Linked DNA regions of Homo sapiens: region 2 is linked to region 1. Evidence: fine-mapped expression QTL. A gene starts in region 1. The other region holds a variant in brackets. All regions are shown on one strand. Distances are between the middles of the regions.

The links. PIP is the estimated chance that this variant, and not a neighbour inherited with it, causes the effect. A credible set is the group of variants that fine-mapping cannot tell apart.
Region 2: its variant is the best candidate, but not a certain one, in a credible set for the expression of WDR48 in monocytes (Kim-Hellmuth 2017, PIP 0.61).

The regions. Positions count from the first base shown.
Region 1 is chr3:39,050,949-39,053,448 of GRCh38, reverse strand. WDR48 (WD repeat domain 48) reads right to left here and starts at 1,433. Exons shown (of 19, transcript NM_020839.4): 1 at 1,376-1,433. The coding sequence starts at 1,423. SCN11A (sodium voltage-gated channel alpha subunit 11) reads left to right here and starts at 1,505. Exons shown (of 30, transcript NM_001349253.2): 1 at 1,505-1,588. RefSeq lists a silencer at 1,230-1,329 and enhancers at 1,370-1,559, 1,580-1,629, 1,640-1,729, 1,400-2,272.
Region 2 is chr3:39,084,616-39,087,638 of GRCh38, reverse strand. WDR48 (WD repeat domain 48) reads right to left here. Exons shown (of 19, transcript NM_020839.4): 13 at 2,898-2,994; 14 at 2,029-2,124. Among named protein-coding and RNA genes, the nearest start is that of GORASP1, 22 kb to the left of the region's middle. RefSeq lists an enhancer at 1,189-1,248. The variant G/AATATAG (reference allele first, on the strand shown) is at 1,785.

The DNA of each region.
Region 1 (2,500 bases):
TATTAATTTCACTCATTTCAACAAACATCCAGTGAGTGCTTAAGACACTGTACTGATCAGTGAGATCAATAAAACCAAGATGTGAACTAATCAGAAGACTTTATGGCCTACCACCTTCTGCTGGGATTACCTTACTGAAGGACCCCTTCATCTAACTACCTTTATCTGACACTTGATTTCAACCCGCAGAACTCCATATAATGCTGTGTTTTATAAAGAAAGCCTAGGTGTTAATTATTTCTACACCCTTTCAATCCCTTTTCCCCTTTGGGGGCCACCCTAAGTGCTAGGTAAATGTTTAATGAATAAATGCACCAAACTGCCACTACCACATACAATATACCTGCAGGCAAACACCTGTAAGAGGGCTTTTATTCCCTGCATCACTGAAAATATTAAGTGGCAATAACTATTTTTTAATATTATTATTATACTTTAAGTTCTAGGATATATGTGCACAACGTGCAGGTTTGTTACATAGGTATACGTGTGCCATGCTGGTTTGCTGTACCCATCAACTCGTCATTTACATTAGGTATTTCTCCTAATGCTATCCCTCCCCTAGCGCCCCCAGCCCCCGACAGGCCCCGGTGTGTGATGTTCCCCGAAGTGGCAGTAACTCTTAAGCGTAACCGCAAACAAAAGTGAATTCACAAAGGCATAAGGCACAAGACACACACGGTAAGATTAGACAACTCTTTACCACATGGACAATAAATTACACAAACAATAAAGACAGATTCAGCGATGCACACTTAAGATGAAGAAATGGTGAAGAGGAACTTAAATACCAAAACAATTAAAATTATAATTTCCCCACGCACATTCTTATGTCACTTAAACCTACCCAGGGGACAGCTCCCACATAAGAGAGGGCTGGGGGCTCCCAAGTGCGGAATCCTCAGCAGAAACCCCGCAGGGCCGTTGGCGCTCCGCCGCCTCGCCACGCCCCCGCACAAGCCGCTCACTCCTCCAACGCCCACCCCCCTGGGAAACCCCTGGAGGCCTCGGCTCCGACGCAGCGAGGGCAGAGCGCTTCGAAGAAAGACAGGGCAAGGGGGAGGCAAGTGGGCGGGGAACGAGCCTATCCCGACCCCGCAAGTCCACTCCTACAGAAGAGCGGCGACAAGCAATCCCGGGCTCAGAATGCCGCCCACGAGGGTCCCGGGCCTGGGCCCCAAGGGCCAAGCAAGCCGACCCCCGCCCCTTCCTCAAGCCGTTAGCGCCGCGGCCCCACCCCTCGTGGCCGGCCGCGCCCCGCCCCGTTCGCCCCATGCCGCTACCCCAGCTGGTCGTGGCGCCGGGCACCTTCTAGCTGGAGTGGGCCCGGAGCTGCCGGCCGCGTCCGGAAGACCGAGGAACCGGGCTTCCATACCTGCACTTTCCTCCGCCCTGCTGTGTTCTGCCGGTGATGGGCCGCCATCTTGCATGTTGACACTCCGACGTCACTTCCGGAGGTGGCTCAGAGCGGGAGGATGTCCTGCCCCTTTCCCTTTGGCCAAGGGTTAGTGGCGGGGCTGAAGGTAAACAGGCTGTTGTGTTTCCTCGGTGCTGTTAGTTGCTGTGTGGCCGGTAGCCATGTGATGAGGTAGATGCACCTAAAAACAAAACCACTGTGCAAGTATAATGCTGATGGGGAGAGAGCCACTTTTCAGGGCTGAGGGAGCAACACGAATTCACTTGTGTGGTCCTAGACCCTGGCTTGCGCTCTTTTCCGCGCCCTCCCCGAGAGGCCCAAGCAAAACGAAAGCACTGAAAGAATTAACAGTGCTAGACATGGCGCTGGACCATCTCCTGACCTTTCCTAGGCAGGCAGGAGAACCAAGTGAACCAAGTGATTTACTGTTAAGTACCTAAAAATGCGGAGAATTATGTCGTGGCCTCAAAGGGGGAGAGATAGAAGTCCTTGCAAAGGAGGTGGCCTCCATCTTCAGGGGGAGCAAAGAATCCGTTTAAATTAAAAGGATAAAAAGTGGGGCCATAAAAGAACGAGATCATGTCCTTTGTAGGGACATGATGGAGCTGGAGGCCCTTATCCTTAAGCAAACTAACAAAGGAACAGAAAACCAAATACCGCACGTTCTCACTTATAAGTGGGAGCTAAATGATGAGAACACATGGACACAAAAGAGGGGGACAACACACACTGGGGCCTTTCGGAGGGTGGAGGGTGGGAGGAGGGCGAGGATCAGGAAAAATAACTAATGGGTACTAGGCTTAATACCTGGGTGACAAAATAGCCTGTACAACAAACACCCGTGACACAAGTTTACCTATATAACAAACCTGCACTTGTACCCCTGAACTTAAAAGTTTAAAAAAAAAAAACAAGACAAAAAGATGTTATAGGAAGGCGAAAACGGTACACCAGCTAAAATTGTTCCCAGAGACAATTCTAGTTTAAATCATCTCTTATACTGGAACAGTTAGGTTTGACTTAAGGTGGTTTTCCTGACCACTAATTATAAGAGCTGAGGGTGATCAGACCCTCTCTAGTGAA
Region 2 (3,023 bases), 34 kb before region 1:
TCCACTGTTGTTTTTTCTTTGAGACGGGGTCTCATTCTGTTGCCCAGGCTGGAGTGCAGTGGTGTGATCACAGATCATTGCGGCCTCAACCTCCCCTGGCTCAAGTGATCCTCCCACCTCAGCCTCCTGAGTAGCTGGAACTATAGGCACACACCACCACAACTGGCTAATTGTTTACATTTCTTGTAGGGACAGGATCTTGCTATATCGCCCAGCATGGTTTCAAACTCCTGGGTTCAAGGCTGCTGGGCAGGGCAGCCTAAACATAAGCCATCAAGTAGTAAATGACCCAACAAGCACAGACGTCAAAATCACTGTCAACAAATATTAGAGGCCTCCCAAAGCACTGGGATTACAGGTGTGAGCCATCACGCCTAGCTCCATTCTGCTTTCTTCATAAACTTTTGACCCAGCACAGGTGGGTGATACCAACTCAAGTGCCAATTCATTCATGACACTTTCCTCATCAAACTGGAAGCATCTGACCCCCTGAAATCCTATAGCATTTGTGGAACCTCTCTCCTAGCACCCTTCTATCTCAGAATGCTTTCCATAAGTAACTCTCTGCCATACCAGAACATCAGCTCCTGAAGGACAGGGACCATACCCATGTGTCTTTAGTACCCCCACCTGAAACTTGGTAAGGGCCCCTGAATAGTAGAGCTGCTCACCAAGCACCATCTGAACAACTCCAGAGTGTCCACTGAGTATGCTGCAGGTGCTGTGGTCTGAGCTCTGGATGAGGAAGTAGCCATGCCCTGCCCTACCTTTCCCATGCAGTCTGATGTTAAGGATGACGTGATTTCTGGTGATGTCTTCCTTATACTCCTCACCCAAAGCCTAGATCCAAAGGGTGCATGACTATACCACTGTTTTGATAACTTAATCCTTATTGCTTATTTGGGTGGCTGAGAGTATCCCATCTAACTGGAAATGATTTGCCCACAGCAACATAGCTGTTAAGCAGCAGAGCCCACCCCAGAACCTAGCTTTCTTGACCCTCTGTGGAAAGATTTTTCCATCAGTTTCTTTAGCTCAAAGTCCACTGTACAATTCTGACAGGGATCAAAGTGTGTCAGGTGATGTAAAAGAAAAGCCACCATGGGTGGGGCAACAGCACCCTCTCTCTGACAGGAACATCAGAAGACTGGTTTTCAAGGAAGCATGTCATCCTCATGTGAGAGATTTAAATTCCACATATCATTATGGGTGAATCTGACAGCCAGAACAAAGTCCCTGGCAGGAGGTACTCGCCATTGTTGCTCACTCCTGGTGGCCAGCAGAGAATCTTCAGCAGAGTAAGCCTCAGTCGATGGGACTCAATGATTCCTCAACCAGCTGTAGGTTACACATGAGGATGTGAAATTCTAAGTTCTTGTTTCCCCTTCCTTTGATCAAACTGAGCCAAATGCATATATTCAAAACATGTTCTCCTCTGCTGCTCAGGGAACGTTACTGCCACTGCCTATGGCACACACACGTTTCAGATGTCCTCAGTGACATTAATTCTTTACACATGCTTGAGCATATGCCCTGTCACTTCTGAGTTGGAATTTGAATTTTTTTTTGAAACAGAGTCAAAATCAGGTAGGCCATGAGACTAGGAAATACCAACATTTCAGCCCAACATGAAGAGTGACTATGCAATGACAAACCTGGCTTTCTGATGCAGCTAACTACCTAGCTTTGGAGGTTAATCCAAAAGATCAGAGGTACCTTGAAGAATATTTTGGAAATAAGTCTGTTAAGGTGCCTCATTTTAAGACAAAAGTCATCTGAATATA[G/AATATAG]AGTATTTTATTTATCTTGAGCAGTCTCACTAAAAGCCATATCATAAGGTGGTCTGCTCTTTTGGAATCTCAGTCTCAGTTAAGACTGGATGGATGTTCCTACTTTGAGATATGGAAGAGAGGACAATAAACTGAGTACACCACAAATATTTTAGCTAACGGTTTAAGTAAGTACCTTTTAGTAAGTACCTTTTAAGTAAGTACCTCTAACTTTTTATGCAACTATCTGAATATAAAAACTAACCATGGTTTACTTCATTTTCCTCTTCATCCATTGGATTCACATGTGTTCTAGGCCAATATTCCAGGAGTGCTTGGAGTAAAAGTCCTCCTAAATTCACTGCAAAAAAGTTAATTAAAAAGAGATAAAATGGAAAAGCGAGTTACTTGGCTTTAACCTAAAAATAGAATAAAAATTGTAAGTTTGTACATATTCTGATGTTACATTCTTAACCCAATGCGAATGATGTCTAAAATAAAGACTTTAGTCATTTTGCCAATTCTGCTAAAATTTTATCTTAGAATGTTTAAAGCAATGATGCTATGGAGCAAAGACATATTCTACTTGGTTGTTCAGATACAGCTATTATTTAAAAACAAACATGAGAATCAGATTTTTTTTTTTTTTGAGATAGAGTCTCGCTCTGTCACCCAGGCTGGAGCGCAGTGGTGCAATCTCGGCTCACTGCAAGCTCCGCCTCCCGGGTTCACGCCATTCTCCTGCCTCAGCCTCCCGAATAGCTGGGACTACAGGCACCCGCCACCACGCCCGGCTAATTTTTTGTATTTTTAGTAGAGACGGGGTTTCACCGTGTTAGCCAGGATGGTCTCGATCCCCTGACCTCGTGATCCACCCGCCTCGGCCTCCCAAAGTGCTGAGATTACAGGTGTGAGCCACTGCGCCTGGCCGAGAATCAGATTCTTTAAACGGCTATTTCCATATGAAATTACTAAAATGATTTGTATACATTAGGTATTTGTACATACCACATTTTTAGGACATAGTCAACAAAATATAGAGAACTTTTACAAAGATAAGTACTTAGCAAAAAACAGCTCATATTCATCTTCTCTTTAGAAGGGAGGAAAAAAATGAAGGACACTTAAACTCACATTTTGGATCTGACCCATCAGGGCTGCTGAAACCAGCATCTTTTGCAGAAACCCAGGCAGCAAAACAATCACTTTCATCCAAAGTAATAGTTAACATCTATCAAAAGAAAAAACTTAGTGGCATCC